Regions from separate parts of the Homo sapiens genome. Here region 1 is linked to region 2. A link means that fine-mapping ties the variant in region 2 to the expression of a gene that starts in the linked region. Tissue or cell type: monocytes after Pam3CSK4. Region 2 holds a variant in brackets; the other region holds the start of a gene. All regions are shown on one strand. Distances are from middle to middle.

Region 1 (9,342 bases), 72 kb before region 2:
GCTGGCATTTGCATTTTAAAAGTAGCAAGAAGTCAGGTCAATGCTTATTTGAAAGGATAGGGTCGGCCAGGCGCCGTGCTCATGCCTGTAATCCCAGCATTTTGGGAGGTCGAGGCGGATGGATCACCTGAGATCAGGAGTTTGAGACCAGCCTGGCCAACATGGTGAAATCTTGTCTCTACTAAAAACACAAAAATTAGCTGGGCGTGGTGGCGGGCACCTGTAATCCCAGATACTTGGGAGGCTGAGGCAGGAGAATCACTTGAACCCAGGAGGCTGAGGTTGCAGTGAGCCGAGATCGCGGCATTGCATTCCACTCTGGGCAACAGAATGAGACTCCATCTCAAAAAAAAAAAAAAAAGAAAGAAAAGATAGGGTGACCATAAGGTCCAAAATGGGATGTTATACATTTTATTATCTTTTAATACAAGAAGTCTAGAGGCAGGGTGGTTCCATGGTTGGTTAATTCAGGATCTCAGTGACATCAAAGATCCAGATTCTTTCCATCTGTCATTTTGCACCTTCAGTTAGTTAGAAGTGTCCTATCTCAGGGTCTCAAGATGGCTGTCATAGCTCCAGACATCATGGCTTCATCCACTTACAATAGCAAACACCCATCCAAGGATCGGGCAGCATACTATGCACTTTGGATCTATTAAATATTTTAACCTGCACAACAACGCTGTGAGGTAGAAGCTCTTACTGACCCCATTTTACAGATATGGATATTGAAGCCCAGAGAGGTTAAGTCACTTACACAAAGTGACACAATTAGGAAGCAGTGGGACTGGGATTTGAAGCTGAGAAGCTGGTCTCTGGTGCTACAACAATGTCCAAAGGCTGGAGAAGAAGTCGTGCATGTTGGTGGCAGAGTGGGATTGGAACTGAGGGTCCTAGATGTTTTCCTTTCTGCTTCCTCAAAGCAGTGTCTCCAATGCCTCCTGGCAAAAGTATGATTTGGCAAAGCTGTGGAGCCCTGACTTAATTGGATACCTATTATGCTTAAATCAGACCTTGAACCAGAGCCCCCTGGAGAATGTGCTTCCAACAGCAAGGCTTCCCTTAGAGACGTTTTGACTTGGGCAGCTGGGGGTAGCTCAACTACTAGGAAGACGATTATATTTTGGTGGGAAGAAGTGAACCCTGGGCTGTGTGTCCAGCGTTGATTTGAGTTGTCCAGCTGCTCTAATTCCAAGGGTGGAGAGGCCTCCCTCTTCTTCTCAGACAGCTGCTCTTGGTTCTCAGAATGAGGAACAGCCCTGCTCTGGGCTGCTGGTCTGACTTTTGAGAACTCATTTGCATTTGGGAAATGATGGCACCCTCGGGCAGTGCAGTAACTCACTTCTCAATTGGCTCATTCAACTTGGGATGGGAAAGAAAATCACTTGTTTTTCCTTGCTTTAACTTAATTAGTTTTCCTTTTAAACAGAGCTTGGGAAGGGGGCCTTCAAATCCTCAGCCTGCAGAAGCTGACAGGGGCTTGTCAGGGAATAAGAAACTCTGATGTTTCCAAGCAGCAGAATCTTCTCCCCCTCAACTGTGAAACTTATGTAACAGAAACGAAATGGTATTTCCCACTATTTGCAAAGTACATGGCAACGGAAACTCTAAAATTGTCCCTGCAAAAGAGAATTTCCCTATCATTATCATCACTTTTTTTTTCTTCCCCCTGAACTGCAATTTTTTTTTTTTCTTCTTCCTCCCTGTTCTTTTTGAGAACGTTACCCAGCTGCCGGCTGTTTCAGGCCCTGCCCTGACATACACATGAGACAGATAGGCTCCCCACTAGATATTCCGGACGGGTGATGGGGAAGAAGGGAATAGAGGTCAAAGTTGAAATGGGGATAGGAAGAGATCTACTCCAGCCTGACTGCTTAGTCATGTTTGGTTTAGGGAGTTGCCTATGCCAGGATTAGCTGGGAGGCAGCCAGGTTTTGAAGAGAGGGAGTCCCCACTGATCCCGCCAAGGCTGAGGCCCCTGGCTGAATCCTGATGGCTGAATCATGACACTGGGGTAGTGACCTGAGGCAGAGTCCTGGAGGTGCCACCAACCAATGGTGCTTCCCCAGGCCCATCCCTTGCAGGCCTTAGAGAAGCTGAAAGGACCTTGTTTATTTATTGTCCTTCTCTCCCTGCTCTTGACTGGACACACCAGGAAGCCAGGGACCTTATCTGTTCTGTTCACTGCTGTATCCCTGCCTGGAGCATAGGAGGCCCTCAGTATATAATAGTTGAATGCATGAGAGGAGGAACTTGTCTTCATCCTCACCTATCCCCCTTGCTGGAATAATGCCGGCAGCACAAGGGCCTCAGCTGTTGGGGTGCTCAGTGCTGCAGCCTCAGGACCCCGCCCAATGCCCAGTGTGTAGTAGATGCTTGTGGCCGACACTTATAGATGCCCACCATGCTAGCTCCTCTTCTCTCTTGACAACAGATCTCCAAGTTGTCTGGGCAGCCTTGTGCCAGGGGACTAAGCAGGTCTTTTCTAAGTTGATGGTGGCAATCTATGCCCTCGGTCAGGGACTTTTCAAGGGTGACCATGGCTTCTAGTGCTGACCTGCTGGGAGCTTAAGTTTATTCCCCCAAAGAGAGAAGCACAGAGGAGACAGAGTCTTCTTCGTACTTTTCTTTCCTTCATTGGAGGTGTGTGAGGAGGCAATGTTGCTGTTTCAGCAGCCATTTTGTGCCTCTGAGGCCCTAAAGCTTGGGAGGAAAAGCCACCATGCTGAGGATAGGAGGGTCAAAGGTGCCATGATCCTTGATGACATCATGAAGTCCTACACCAGCCTCAGGAACCAACTGCCTCTGGACCTCTTGCTAAATAATGTCCTTATGCTTTAAGCTATCAATAGCCCAGTTTTCTTCTCCTTGCAGCCAAATGCATCCTATTAGATTCAGCACTCAATCCACGCATTGTAAAAGACTTCACTTATTGAGCACCTACTGTGTGCTCTAAGCACCCTCCATGTATGCACTCAGGAACCTTGCAACGACTTTATGATGTAGGTACTGATATTATTCTTAGTTCACAGATGAGGAAAGCAAGGCACAGAGAGCTTAAGTATGTTACTAAACGCTGTATTATCTTTTAGTGTCATCATTACCACTGGGGATGGGGATGGAAGGGGAAAAAGATCCCAGCAGAATCTGAGGAAGTAACGATGTATAAAACATTGGGGTGGGCCAGAGATGGGACCCATCCACAACGTGGAAATGTTTTTTGGCAGTGTGGGCCAATTCTTGGGTGAAATGTGGGATTTGTGTGTAAACTTGAGGCTAACCTTCCTTGGTCATGGGCTGAGAAGGGAACTAACATTTGTTGAGCACCTACTCTGTGCCAGCTATGTGTGTCAGGTACTTTACATCAGTGGTTCTCAACAGGGGGCAATTCTGTCCCCAGGGATATCTGGCAATGTCTGGAGACACTTTTTCTGTTTATTTTTGAGGCAAGGCTTACTCTGTTGTCCAGGTTGGAGTGCAGTGGTGTGATCACAGCTTACTTGCAGCCCTGACCTCCTGGGCTCAAGCAAGCTCCCCACCTCAGCCCAGCAGCTGGTACTACAGGTGTGTGCCACCATGCCCAGCTAATTTTTAAAATTTTTTTGTAGAGACAGGGTCTTGCTATGTTGCCCAGGCTGGTCTTGAACTTCTGGGATCAAACAATCCTCCCACTTGGACCTCCTAAAATTCTGGGATTAGAGGCCGGAGCCACTGTGCCCAGCCTGGAGACATTTTTGATTCTCAGATTGGGGAGGGAGTGCTACTGGCATCTAGTGGGTAGGGGACGCGGCTAAATGTCCTGAAATGCACAGGACACGCCCCTCCCCCAACAAAGAGTTATGTGACTCCAAATGTCAATAGTCCCAAGGTTGAGAAAGTCTGTATTGCATAGAATTCGCTCTCACAAAGACTCCCCTTTTACAGATTAGACGACTGAGGCCCAGAGAAATAACGTGTCTTGGCCAAGGTTACCCTGCCAGTTGGATTTGGACTGGGATACAAATGCAAGCCCGCTTCATTCCATGGTCCATTATGTTCCAGCCATGTTCTCCCCTCGTGGTAGACAGAATTAATTTAAAGATGAGGAAACGGAGGCTCAGAAAGGTACCGTGAACAGTTTAAAGTCACAAAGCAGAGATACTCCAGAGGCCTTTATTAGGAATAAAAATATAAATAAAAAACCAGCTACCTTTGGACACAATTGACTCCACTACCCAAGCGTGACAGGCTCACCTATCTCATGTCCTTTACTCCCTGCCCAGGGGAACTTCACTCAGCCCAAGGCCCAGATCAAATGCTACCTTGCCCATGATCCCAAAGAAAGAAGTCAGAGAGGGCAGAAGCCACCCCATTCTCTCCCTGTGTCCTTAGGCACTTACAGTATTGAGAGGCCAATGGGAGGAAAATCCTAGGCTTTTGGAACAGGAATAAATAAGCAATGTTTCTGTCCATAAAATGACTACAGTCTAGAGGCGGATACTATGTGGATCACTTTATCCCCTGCAGAGACGATACAATCTCTGGTCCGGAAACACGGGTGATTAGGGATTGTATGGGCCATTTGAGAGTGGGGCCAGGCTTAGAGGGCCGTTCACACATGCAATAATAGTAAGAACAAACATTTACAGAGAACTTTCTAGGTGTTGGGCTTCACACATGCAATAATAGTAAGAACAAACATTTACAGAGAACTTTCTAGGTGCTAAGTACTTCCCATGGAACCCCGGGGAGGACCTTGGAGCTAGGTACCATGATCGTTCCCGTTATACTGATGAAAACACTGAGGATCTTGAAGCAAGGAAACCAGCCCAAGGCCACCCGGCCAGCAAGTGGGGAGCTAGGATTTGAACCTGAGCAGCTGACTCTAGGCCCCAGAACTTCCTCCCCTCTCCATACCTTCCGATAAGGCGGGTGATGATCAACATTGCCCAGAGCAACCTGACAAGAAGCTGGGTTTCCCAAGGCCTTATCCCATGGGGTGGGTGGATGGAAGGGGGAGCAGGCAGGGTACCTGCCACTTGATCAATAACTCAAGAGCAGGTAATAATTTCTTCTGGGAAAGGTGGAAAGGGCAGGGTCAGGGGGCAAAGAAGTTCAGAAAGAAAAGGAAGGAAGGAAAGAGAGAGATGGGAAAGGAAACGGGAAAGAGAAAAGTGAGAGCGAGCGCGCGCCACGCATGTTCCTTCCCAAGGTCGTGGTAGCACCGAGGGCACCGCGAGGGCCCGGCGTTCCCGGGAGGGGCCGTCACTGCCCAGAGAGGGGCCGTCACTGCCCAGGCAGCGGTCGCCCCTGACTTCCCGGGGCCGCGGAGGCGCGCGTGGCGGGGCTGGCTTGCCCCCGAGCGGCTCCGCAGCGAGCTTTCCCAGCCCGGTGTTTACTTGGCCCGAGCAGCGGCCGGACCTGCAAGCAGGAGCCTGCGCGCGGCGGGTGTCGCGTGTGCCGGGTGGGAGTGGCGTAGCCCGCGGTGACTGCGGGTTGGGGGGGCGCCACGCGTCCGGGCGCGGAGTTGGTACGCTCGGTTCGGCGTGCGCGCGGCCTCGGACTCCCGGCTCCGCGGGGCCCTTCCGGAGGCTCCCGCCCGACCCCCGAGCTTCCGACGGAGGCGCCGAGCGCCGCGCCGCGTCCCCAGGGGCCCCGTGCACGCGCAGAGCGCCTCTGCGGCCGAGCGCGGCGTGGCACTTGGCAGACGGTCCCTGGCGCGGGGGCGGGGGGCCAGCCGTCTGGGAGCCCCGAGGGCCGCCCCCTCCCGCCCCTCGCCCGGCCCCCGCGCGCTGCCTCCGCCCCCGGCCCAGCCGCCCGGCCCCCAGTCCCGCCCGCCGCGCCGGGAGCCCGGCCCGCCGCTGAGCCCGGCCCGCCGGCGCGCCCCGTCCGGGATGGGGCGCCTGGACGCCTGAGTTGCCGCTCGGCGCGACGGAAGGAGCCGGCGCCGCGCGGCCGCGCTAGAATGGAGGCGCCCAGCGGCAGCGAGCCCGGCGGCGACGGGGCCGGGGACTGCGCCCACCCGGACCCCCGGGCCCCTGGCGCCGCGGCGCCCAGCTCCGGCCCCGGCCCGTGCGCGGCCGCCCGGGAGTCCGAGCGCCAGCTGCGCCTCCGCCTCTGCGTCCTCAACGAGATCTTGGGCACCGAGAGGGACTACGTGGGCACCTTGCGCTTCTTGCAGTCGGTGAGTGTCGCTCGGGAGCTTGGGGACAGCTTTCCCTCCAGCCGCTCGCCCCGCTGCGGTCCCCACAACCTGTGGCCGTGGTCCCCGTGGGTGGAGAATTGCCTCGGGGGCGCCCCGCAGGGCGCGCGGAAAGCGGGGGGGATCCGAGCTCCTCCAGAGCTGTCGCGTCGCCTCCCTCCCTGGCCGGCGCACGGTCCTGCTCCGACCGGGGCTCTCCCGCACTCCACTTCCCCGCGGCGCGCGCTGCCCTTTTGTCTTTTCTTCCCCGTCCCCGCCTTTCAAATAGTTTTAAAATTAGTTACATCCGCGATGCAGGGGCTTGGGGACCCCGGCGGCGCCGGGAGCTGGCGCTCCTGCGTCTTTTTCCCAGGAATAACTACGCGCCCGGTGCACCACTCATCTAGGACATACCGTAGGAGCCCCAGAGCCCAACGTCCCTGCGCGTTGATGGAGTAGGATAAAACCTGAAGCTCAGAGGAGGGGCGGGGATTGACAGAACCCCAGGGTAGAATCCCCCATGCACAGGTTTTTGCTGGAGTTCGGGGAGAGTGGGTTTCGAACTCAAAACTCGGCAGTCCAGGCTCCCTAACTGCATCCACCCCCACCAACTCCCCATCTCCAAGTGCAAAACCACGGCCTCAGACTTTGTAAAATAACAACCGACCACTTACTATGTGCCAGACACCTTACATGTGTCATTAATTAGCAGGTTTAACCTTCACAGGCGGTCTATGAAGTAGGGACGAGTATTTCCCCCATTTTTAATTAAAAAAATTTTTTTTTGAGACGGAGTCTCCCTCAGTCACCCAGGCTGGAGTACAGTGGCGCAATCTCGGTTCACTGCAACCTCCGCCTCCCGGGTTCAAGCAATTCTCTTGCCTCAGCCTCCCGAGTAGCTGGGATTACAGGCACGCGCCAGCCACCACGGCCGACTAATTTTTGTATTTTTATCAGAGAGGGGATTTCACCATGTTGGCCATGCTGGTCTTGGACTCCTGGCCTCAAGTGATCCGCCGACCTCGGCCTCCAAAGTGCAGGGATTACAGGCGTGAGCTACTGGGTCCTGCCTCCTCCGTTTTTAAGATTGGGAAAGTTTAGCTCCAGAGGGGCCGGGTAGCTTGTCTGGGATCGCACAGCTGATTAAGTGGGGGTACTGGGCTTTGAACCGGGACTATCCCAGCTGGTGTTCTAAACCCCTATTCTATGCTGCATTTTTCTTTTGCTTTTTTTCTGTGAGAGGGAGGAAGGGGCCACTTCCCTACTCTCCTAGGAAGTGAGAAAAGTGGCCAGCGGGTGGAGGGGGTGGGACGGGGCAGAGCCTTGGATGGAAGTTAGGAGACTCTAAAGTCTTTAATCTCCATGCCTCCTGCTGGGGCCTCATTTACTCCCCTTCTCTGCTCTAGGAAGTCTTTTAATCCTGGTTCAGGAAGGGCTGGTGTGGGGGTGGCTCTTTCAAAGACCCTAGAGCCAGGCTTTGTAGCTCCTAGTCTTTGGGAGAAAGAGGGAGACTCTGGGGTCCTCTGGGGCTCCTCATGGCTTAGGGGTGCAGCTGAGGCTGTGTGAGATCAGAGTTCCAGCTCAGGGAGGAGACAGCCTTAGACTAGAGCCCTTCTGCCTGTGAAAGGAGATGTACTGGGGGCAGGGGGATGTGGGAGAGGGGGTTGTGCAGAAGCATTGAAAACCATTTGGCTAAAGGACCCTTCTAGGAAGGCCTGTAAGAATAAGGCAGGATTGGCTTTCTTTCCCATCCCTTCTTCTCTCACAGTTTCGGGGGTGGGGGGTGGGGGAAGAATTTGTTCTGTTAGAAGCTGGCAGTTTTTGAATTAAACATGTAGACAACCCTGGTGTCTCTGAGCAATGTCAAATTCTAGGGAACTCCTGACTTCTCCTTCTGAGCCACTCCATGCTCCTCTGCTTGGAAGAGAAACAGGAAATACAAACCAATTTTGATATTAATGGGAAAGAAAATATACCTCTCCCTCCCACGCCCCTGCCCTAGATGGTGTGTTTCATTTTAGAACAGATCTAGATTGTGTTTGAGTTAACTGTGGTTTTAAATCGTCCACGTGTAGAGTAGGAGGAAGCTGGAATAATGGAAATTGATTGGAGCCAACCATTCTTATTATTCAAGAAACAGGAAAAAAAAAGATTTCTCTACTTTCACATTATCTCCTTAACACTTTACATTTGCTGACTTCATCACATTTTTCTTTTTGTATCTGATGTGTCAGTTCTGAGATGAATTGGTTCTGACTTGGACATGTGTCTTGGACCAATCATGCTACGTGTCCTGACCTCAGTTTCCCCACCTGTGAAACAAGGAGCGGGGAATCCGGGCTTCCTTTCTGCCTGGGCCTTTTGTGTGTCCCCAAGCTGGTGCCAGAAACAGACGGATTGTGTAACCTGACCAGCCATACGTTGTTTGTGAGCCACAGGAGTCCTCTCTCATCTTGGCCCGTCAGGAATGGCCCCTAAACATCCCAAGGCATTTTCGTTTTCAAAACTAACCTGGGGCTTAGAGCTTCAGGAACTGCTAATTACCAAGGCTTTCCATGGTTGCAAGGCTGGCAGCCTCAGGTTGTGATTCTCTTCTGTCTTCCCACTCTCTCTTCTCAGCCTTTATATTTGCTAAGGGATTTTCCCTGCTGTCTCCTGGCTTGGAAGAATGCACGGTAATCCCTCCCTGCTTTTATTTCCATGTGGTTAGAGGCAGGCCTTAAAGGACCACCCTGGTCTCCGTGTGTCCTTGGTGTGAAGGTCCCATCGGCCCATGGAAACCGTGGAAAGTAACCCCCGTGATAGGGGCCATGTGTGGCTTCTGTCCTCAAGGAGAGGACGGTGTAGTGGAGGATGGCCAAATGGGTGTTTAAAAAAAACAATCCAAGTGCAAGGCTCTGGAGCCAGACTGCTTGAGGTTAAATCCTTGGACTTGTGACCTTGGGCAAACACCTTAACCTGTTTGAGCCTTATTTGTAAAAAGAGGGATGTTAATAGGTCCTATTTTATAGGTTTTTAAAGAAGATAAGTGAGTTATAGAAATTGATGTAAAGCACTTAGAACAGTGTCTGGCAGTAAGGTATATAAATATTGGTTATTATTGTTGTTGTAGGAAAATTAAATAATACAGATAATTAGGGTTGTGGGACTTCAGCATCCAGAGAGCAGGGGTGATCAGAGAG
Region 2 (9,342 bases):
CCCCCACTGTTGCATCAGACCTCTTCATGACAGGTTGTTGCAACTTGTTTTTTGCATCAACTTCCTCTCCCGATGTGGTGGGGAACGGGGCGGGGTGGGGTGAGAACTGGGCACCTTTTACCAGGGCCTAGAATCTGGGTGGGGGTGGGAGTAGTCTACTCTAGATGATTGATTGACTAATTAATTAAACACATCCTTTTCGAGGGTCTGCTGTGTGCTGGGTCCAATCCTAGGCTCTGGGACACCACAGTGACCTAGACAGACAAACATCCTTGCCTTCCTGGAGGTGAGACTCAAGTGGGCTAGATGGATAATAGACTGATATAAACACACATAATGTCCATGGTGACAGGTGCTGTGAGGAAAACAGAGCAGGGATAGACGTTTTCGATAGGATTGTCCTGGAAAGACTGAATGTGCCTCGGGGCCTTTGCCCCGGCTGTTGACCCTGCCCATGATGCTGTGTCCTCCGATACACGCAATGCTGTTTGCTCCCTGTGTCTGCTCAAATGCCATCTTCTCAGAACGGCTTTCTCTGAACAGCTCCTTGAAATGGCATTCCCACCTTATCCTTCTCTGTTTTCTTACCCTGCTTTAGTTTTCTTTGTAGCAATCATTCCTACCTGCCATTTTATTTTAAAATCAGTGTATAGTCTGTCTCTGCCACTACTTTGTGAAGGTGGGGAGTTAGTCTGATTTGTTCATTCACTGATGTGTCATTGGCTCTTAGCGCAGTGCCTGGCACATAATAGGTGTGCAGTAAGTATTTGCTGACTACACAGGCGAATGTAAGAATGCATAAGTCCTTCCGTGGCAGGGTCATGGCTTATATCTGTGTCTCCAGCACCCAGCTCGGTGCCTGGTGCACGGCAGGCCCTGGTTAACACTTGCTGGGATGGTTGGTACTCGGAGAGGACTTGTCCCCCTAGAATATCATCACAAGCAACTTCCTGCCCCTTTCCTAGTCCAGCCTCCCTCTCCTGGCTCAGCCTTTCTGCCACTTTTTCCAGGAAGTGTTTGTAGTTACAAAGTGTTCACCTGCATCATTTCACTTAAACCTCAACAACTACTCCTCCCCCCCTTTTTGTTTGGTCCAGGAAATTGACTCAGAAGTGTGGTGACTTGCTGAAGTCACGTGGTTGGCAGTCAGCAAGGAGGATGGGGCAGGGCAGAGGGGTGCGCTGGTGGTGATGAGGATGTGGGGGGCTCTGCAGTTTATAAAGCCTTCCCCTTCTCATCTCACCTCAGGAGACTCGGAAGCAGGCAGTCTATAATAATAGAGCTATTTGCAGGATGGAAAAAACTAATAAAAATAAGTAAAAATAGTGTGGGATAAATGTGAGTGTGCTTGGTGCATGTAGAAGCCCTACAGATGTGGTTGATCCAAATCCAGGTTTCCTTAGGAAGCACAGTGGGTTCTGTCTACCTGCACCAGGGCTTGGACTCCCTGCAGACACTCTAGAAACTCAAGATGGGGAGATCATAATAGCCAATGCTTTTTTTTTTTTGAGGCAGGGTCTTGCTTTGTCATCCAGGCTGAAGTGCAGTGGTGCGATCTTGGCTCACTGCAACCTCTGCCTCCTAGGCTGAAGTGATGCTCTCACCTCAGCCTCTCGAGTAGCTGGGACTACAGGTGTGCGCCACCACACCTGGCTATTTTGTTTGTTTGTTTGTATTTTTGGTAGAGATGAGGTTTTGCCGTATTGATTGATTGCTCGAACTCCTGGGTTCAAGCAATCAGCCTGCCTCGGCCTCCCACAGTGTTAGGATTACAGGTGTGAGCTCACAGGTGTGAGCCTGGCCAATAATAGCTAATGTTTTTTGAGCACCTGCTATGCACCAGGGACCATTCAAGTGCTTGTTATGTGTGTTAGCTTCTGTAATTCTCATTGTAATCCTGTGTACTCATTTTATCCCCCGTTATAGAGGAGGAAATGGAGGCAGAGAGAATAAATAATTTACTTCAGGTCTTAGAGCTTGTAAGCAGCAGAGCTGGGATTTGAGCCCATTTAAATGCTTTGCCTGTAGTATTTCTTTTTTTCTTTCTTTTCTTTTTTTTTTTTTTTTTTTGAGATGGAATCTTGCTCTGTTACCCAGGCTGGAGTGCAGTGGTGCGATTTCAGTTCATTGTAACCTCTGCTTCCCAGGTTCAAATGATTCTCCTGTCTTAGCCTCGCAAGTAGCTGGGATTACAGATGTGAGCCACCATGGCTGGCTAATTTTTGTATTTTTTGTAGAGACAGGGTTTCACTATGTTGGTCAGGCTGGTCGCGAACTCCTGACCTCAGGTGATCCACCCATCTCAGCCTCCCAAAGTGCTGGTATTATAGGCGTGAGCTACCGCGCCTGGCCTGCCTGCAGTATTTCATATCAGCCTCACAATAGCCCATGAAGTCAGTAGTTTTATGGTCCCCATCCATGTTATAGATGAGGCCCAGAGAGATGGAGTCAGTTGCCTAGGTCACAGAGCAGTAGGTGGCAGGGGCAGGATTTGAACCAGGTGGCTAGTTCTAGCCTTTGAGCCTCATCCACTCTTACATACTGCTTGCTTAGGAGATACAGTGCCCTTCTAGCAAGGAGTAGAGAGAGTTTCTAAGGGTAGGGAGGGCTTCTGAGAGTTGGGGCATGGGAGGAGGAGGTGGAATGCTGGCCATATCTTTGGCCTCCGCAGGGGAATGTGTATGGGTTCCCCGCAGATGCAGCCTGGATTCAGGTGGGCTAGATGGATAATAGACTGATAATGAACACACATAATGTCCATGGTGACAGGTGCTGTGAGGAAAACAGAGCAGGGATAGGCGTTTTCGATAGGATTGTCTTGGAAAGACTGAATGTGCCTTGGGGCCTTTGCCCCAGCTGTTGACCCTGCCCGTGATGCTGTATCCTCAGATACACGCAATGCTGTTTGCTCCCTGTGTCTGCTCCACGTGAAACCTGCCTCCACGTCTGACCGGGGACTGCCTGTGGTTCCGCAGCCACCTCCTCTGACCTTCAGCCCTGCACATGTAGAGATTTTCCCCATCAGCTCAGAAGTATTTTGGTGTTTTAACAGGCAGCGAGGCCGTCCTGGTGTGTATTAGGAGAACATCTGCTGAAGTGCCTGGCCTGTGTGGCTGCGGTGCTGCAAAGCCCTGTCTTTCACCCCCCCAAGCTCGGGGGGGCCCTACACCCTCTTTCTTTTTGAGGCTGCATTGCGACACCTCAACCACTCCAGGGCACACCAGAGGGACGCTCCACTGCCAGCACCTGCGCTCCTCTGCCTGATGGCTTTGTCTGCTCTGAGCTGCTCTGTCACTTTCAGGGAAGATGGGGAGTGCCAGGATCACCCCCACTGCCCTTAAACTAGTGACAGACAGGGCTGATGTACAGACTCCCTGGCCTCCTCACTCCCTGAGGGTGGCTGTGAGGTGTGCGTTCCACACGGTCTGTCTGGGGCCTCATGGTGGTAACTTGCTTGGTCTCATACCCTTCGTGGGCTGCCTTCCCTTCTTGGTTCCACCTCCCTGTTGGTGTTTCCAGGGACCATCTCCCACCTCCCACCTCCCAAAGAAACTACTTGTACTCCACTTCTTGCCTCAGGGTCTGCTGCATCTGGGGAACCACCCCAAGGGTCCTGTCATGGTACACCCGCTAAGATGCACCCACAGCACACACTCCCTGCATTCTCTGTGCACATAGCCACAGGCAGAGTTGATTGGTAATTTTGTAGACATTTAAATCAAGATTTATTCTTTTTGACAATGCAGTTTTCCTTTTGTATTTGGAGCCAATGCACGTATTTTTAAAGGCCTCCAACATTTCTATAGGTCCAAGGAATGGTGCCAAGGAAATGTGCCCAGGGAAGGGGCCTGGTCTGAGCTGGTCCAGGGGCTACACGGAATTGAAAGTGCCCACCCCTTCACTGGACATTTACTGAGGACTTATTGGGCACCTCCTGTGATCCTGGCTGGATCCTGGGGGCCGGGGGCTCCCACCGTGGGCAGAGGCAACAAGTTATTTACAAGCAGTGTCAGATTTAATCCTCATGTCAGCGACTTGCAAGGTGAGGCTCCATTACACAGATTTTATAGATGAGGCAACTGAGGTGCGAGGCTTGGCCGACTCCAGAGCCTAATGTGTGATTCATGCCCTGTTTTCCTCTTTCCTAAAAAGGGGATGCAGTAGCCCACCTTGTGGGATTGTTATGCAGGACGAACATGCTGACCATCAGTCACCTGCTGAACCCCTTGTTACTGGGCATCTGCTCTGTGTCCAGTCCAGCACGGTTCTAGGTCCAGTGGGTGGACACTGCCCAAACAAGCTGCCACCCTCCTGGGACTGACTTTGTAGGGGACACAGGAACTGTAAGTGAAGAAACAGCTCAGTGCAGGTGGAGGGCAGTGCTGTGGGGGATGGAGGAGGATGAGATACAGTGTGCAGGGGAATGGGTGTCTGTTTCAAATGGAGCAGTCGGGGAAGGCCTCAGAAGAACTGGCATTTGATTCTAGAGGGGAATTGATATGGTTTGGCTGTGTCCCCACCCAAATCTCACCTTGAATTGTAGCTCCCATAATTCCCATGTGTCATGGGAGGGACCTGGTGGGAGGTAATTGAATCATGGGGGCGGGTCTTTCCCATGCCGTTCTCGTGATAGTGAGTAAGTCTCA[C/T]GAGATCTGATGGTTTTATAAAGGGGAGTTCCCCTACACAAGCTCTCTTGCCTGCCGCCATGTAAGACATAACTTTACTTCTCATTTGCCTTCTGCCTTGATTGTGAGGCCTCCTCAGCCATGTGGAACTGTGAGTCAATTAAACCTCTTTATAAATTACCCAGTCTCTGGTATATCTTTATTAGCAGTGTGAGAACAGACTAATACAGGAATGAATTGAGGGTGGGGCCCTGCAGATATCTGGAGAAAGAGTCTTCCAGGCAAAGGGAACAGCAAGTACAAAGGCCCCGGGGTGGATGGTGCCTTGGTATATTCCCAGGAGGCCTCAGTTGTAGGTTCTTTGTATGCTTTCAGGAAGAAATTAGCCTGTTAAAGATACAATTCAAAGCAATATGTTTGTGCTGTGGACTATATAATGAAATGAGTTATAGATACATATATGGACTTTGTAAATGTGCCATGGGAGTAAAGGAGTAGTAAGTCTGACTTTGTAAAAAAAAAAAAGCTATCTCTTCCCAGTCCTCTCAGAGTATGTCTGTGACTGAATGAGTCAGCGGTGGAATCCTTGGGGAGGATGTTTCAAATCCAAAATTTGGGTCTTTTGGGAAAGCCTCAGTTGGTTCTGAGCCAGTGGCTCTCTGTTTCTGGCCCCTGGCATGGACGTGATGAAGGAATGCTAGGTGGGAACAGAGTGGAGAGGGTTTTAATCAGCCTGGGCAGTGGTGTGGGCTCTGGGTGGTGGACATTCTTGTGTTCTGGCCCAGGCTGTGGAAGCTCCAGGCCAGCTTGTGGGGGTCCCCAGGTTTCCAGAGTTGACTCAGAGAAGGAGGGCTGGTCGGCAGCTCAGAGGCTCTTCTGCAGAAGGTAAATCTTTCCATCTCATATTTGCCTTGCCGCTGCTCTGTTCCCCACTGGCGGGCACTGCCTTCCCTGCACAGGGATACACATATCCAAGGAGGAGAAGACAGAAGCCAGGGGTCCTGATGATTGGGGCAGGTGATGGGGTGGGCGAGAGAGAGCCTGTGTGTTTAGTACCCCTCCCATCCAGAAAAATAAAAACATGCATTTATGTTAAAAATGACTTTTGCTTAAAAAGTAGCATGTTCATTGTAGAAATCTGGAAAGGGAAATAAATGAAGAAAGAAGAAAATGGAAATTCTTTAGAATGCCCCTCTGTCAGTTAGGATTAGGTTCAGTGGCTTGTGATAAAACCCAAATAACAGTGTCTTAAATGTGATGAAAGTTTATTTCCTTATTCTGTAATTATAGGTGACCCAGGGCGGATATGTTGGCTGTACCATCACTAGGAACATAAGTGCCTACTGAATGCTGCTCTGTTTTCCCCAACACGTGGCTTCTACCTCATGGTATAAGATGTCTGCTTCACTTCCAGGCATCGCATTTGCAATCCAATCAGTAGGAAAAGGGAATAGCAGAAGAGAATCCCTACCCATTCCTCCCCCAACCCACAAGGATACTTCCAAGATGTTGTACATAATATGCCATGTATGCTGTACTGACCTGAACTTAGTTGCATGCCCACACCTAGCTGCAAGGGATGCTGGGAAATACAGTCCTTATTTTTAAATCTGGAGTTCTGTTTCTAAAGGAAAAGGAGAGAATGATATTGGGGGACAGCTAGTAATTTTGGCCACATTCCTACATAGTTTCTTGTAGTATGGGTATTTCCTTCCATACTTCATTTTTCTATGCCTAGGGAGAGAGAATTTATTTAACCAACAGTGAGATTATATTTTATGTACTTGTTTGTAACTTGATTTTTTTTCCTAGTTAAGGATACATCAACAGTCCTTTTCCGTGTTATTAAATAGACTTCTGCAAACTATTTTTAGCATGATCATTCCTTGTTGAGCTGGATGGTAATTTATTTAACTAAACCCCCAGTGATGGAATTATAAATCAGATATTGAAGGTAAAGCTTCATGCCACATATGAGATTTATTTTCCCCTGTAGGATAAATACCCAGAACTTGGATGGATGGAGCATAGGATTTGGGCATTTGAAGGGGTCATTGGGCAATTGGGGAGCTCCCCAGACTCTGGGCTGTGTGGGGCGGCTTGCAGCAGGCTGTGTAAGCCCCCTTCTGCTGTTATAGCGATTTTATTATCATCGCTCAGATTCCAAGGCCCTTGCTGTTCCATGACACTGTGCTTCCGACTCCCCGCCACCCAGATCATGTTGGGGATGGGGTCCTCAGGGCACCCCCTTTTGTCTTGGCTGTGTTCTGGAGCTCCCCCCACCCACCCCCACTCATCGCTTCCCTTTGCTCCCAGCCCATACCCTGGCCCTCTCAAGTTTCACCATATGTCTGGTGAGGTCACCCCAGCCACGGCAGAGGTGTCCTTGGGGGCAGTCGGGCCCCCTCCCCAAGCAGATCAGGTTGCCGGCATCAGTCTCAGGGAGTGACTTCAAGGCCTCTTTCTGTCCTTTTTATCTCCAGGGAGAGATTTATCCTCCCCAGGCAACAGCAGCCATGGGTTCCAGGCAGATGGCAGCTCCCCAGGGGCACCCCTAAGGGCAGCTGCTACCTGTTTTAAAGGCTGATGCGGTTCATTGTCCACAGTCACTCACTGATGGCGCGTGATGGAGACTGTCTGGGTTTAAGGCCCAGCTCCTTCACTTGCCAGCCGTGTGGCTTTAAATAAGGTCTTTACTGCGCTGGGCCTTAGGCTCTTCTGTAGAATGGACATAGTAATAACAATGCCTGCCTCCTCGAGTTTGAGGATTAAAACACCTAGAGCAGCACCTGCACATAATGAGGCCTAAAGGTGTAGTTAGTGAGTTAAAAAGGTGTTCTTATTCTAGTTGCCTCTCCCAGCTCGATATCAGCTTACTTTCTGGAGCCTGTTCTCAGTTTCTCCCTGTCTCTCCCATCCTTTCTCCACATACCAGTCTCTCTTGAGCACCTGCTGTGTGCCAGCCTCTGTCCCAGGCGCTGCGTAGACGGCCAAGGAAATTGACTTCTGCCCTGAGGGAGCTGATACTTTAGTGAGGGAGATGATACTGAATGATCAAACCTATCCATACTTAATTGATAAGAGCACAGCCAATAGCGGAGACGTCTGTGAAGGGTAACAGGGTTCAGGTGGCTATGTAGTGGGTGAGATCCTCTCTTATATGGGTCCAGGGGTGGCCTGTGAGAGGAGGGACCTCTCCTGCCAATTGAATGTCTTGGGAAAAGCTCTGTAGGCAAAGAACAGCACGTGCGAAGGCCTGGATGCTGGGGGCCTGGTGTGTTCAAGAAACAAAAAGGAGACCAGTGTACCTGCAGCTGAGCCAGTGGGGTGAGAAGAGCCCGCATTAGACAGTATTTGGGCGGTGGAAGAGGTTGGATTTTTTTCTAGGTTTTAATTAGAGCCTTTTCTGAGGCAAGGATTTCTTGACCTTGTCACTGTTGTTTGCGGTCAGCTGTGTCTTTGTGGGGTTGTCCTGTGCACTGTAGGGTGTTTCGCAGCATCCCTGGCCTCTACACACTAGATGCCAGGAGCACCCCTGTCCTCAGTTGTGACAACCCAAAATGTCTCTAGACATTGGCACATGTCTTCTAGGGGGTAAAATCACCCCCAAGTTGAGAACCACTGGGCTCAGGTTAGGGCGACAGGTGAGACCTGGCCTGGCATCGGGAGACCTGGTTCTAATCTGTGTTTTGTCACCAGTTTGCTGTTTGACCTCAGACCAGTGTCTCATACTCTTGGTATCTCCATTAAGTGGGAGCTTGTTGGAGATGGCAAACTCATCATCCTTCTAACCCTCTCCCTGCCACATCCATGGCAGACATCACTAATCAATTATGATGTGGCTTCCTGCTCAGTCTAGAGCTCTGGGGACCCTGGAAACACTCAGGCTGGGAGCTGAGTAAACAGTCTCTCTGGTCCTTCTCTTATGCCCCAGAAGACCTGGATATACATTTAGAGGAACTTGAACGCCTGGGCTCGAGGAAACATGTGCATCACCTAGAGGAACTTGTATACCCATACCCCAGTCGACGAGAGTATACAGCTGAAAGAACTTACACCTGAGTGCCATTGTTTACAGTAAGGATGTTTGAAACAAGTGTCTGCAGCATGGCAGTGGTTACTTCATGCTGTGATTTTGACTAGTAAGCAATGAAATGAACAACTTGAGGTCTGTCTTATTGTGGATTCCCCAAAGAACATGACCCGAGACTGATTCAAGGGCAAGTAGCATACTTGGGAGGTCACCCCAGGAAGCATCAATAGGAGAGTGGGGGAGTGAGGCAGGGAGGAGAAGGCAGCCAAGAAAGGTGTGTCATCAAGCGGGTTACCATGGGGGCCACCGGAGCTGAATCCATCAAGGCACTCGGGGAGATAGTGTCCATCGAGTGCCTCAGTTTCCTCATCTGTCTTTTCATGCCAGGTCCTGCTGGCCATCACTGAGGGCTGCTCCCAGGCAGTCTTACTTCTTCCGCACCTCTGGCCTGCCCTGCACATGAGAGCGGGGTCTTCAGGCCAAGAGATGCAGGTGCTGGCAGCTCGATGTGGTGTGGGGTAAGGGTGGGGTCTGGATAGCAGATGTTGCCCAGTGTACATATCAACATGGGTAAATGTGGAAGACATGATGTTGAGTGAGAAAATCAAGTTGCTGAAAGCATGCTACTTATAAAAATGTTGTGAACATGCAAAACAATATTCTCTCTTGCTTATAGATGCACAC

What was found. PIP is the estimated chance that this variant, and not a neighbour inherited with it, causes the effect.
Region 1: it holds the start of PREX1, and the variant in region 2 is fine-mapped to the expression of PREX1 in monocytes after Pam3CSK4 (Quach 2016, PIP 0.95).

Annotation. Positions count from the first base shown.
Region 1 is chr20:48,824,463-48,833,804 of GRCh38, reverse strand. PREX1 (phosphatidylinositol-3,4,5-trisphosphate dependent Rac exchange factor 1) reads left to right here and starts at 5,806. Exons shown (of 40, transcript NM_020820.4): 1 at 5,806-6,163. The coding sequence starts at 5,945. RefSeq lists silencers at 5,153-5,832, 6,243-6,312.
Region 2 is chr20:48,752,278-48,761,619 of GRCh38, reverse strand. The region is part of intron 1 of PREX1 (phosphatidylinositol-3,4,5-trisphosphate dependent Rac exchange factor 1); the gene reads left to right. Among named protein-coding and RNA genes, the nearest start is that of PREX1, 71 kb to the left of the region's middle. RefSeq lists enhancers at 170-219, 3,007-3,086, 2,600-3,594 and a silencer at 750-799. The variant C/T (reference allele first, on the strand shown) is at 4,647.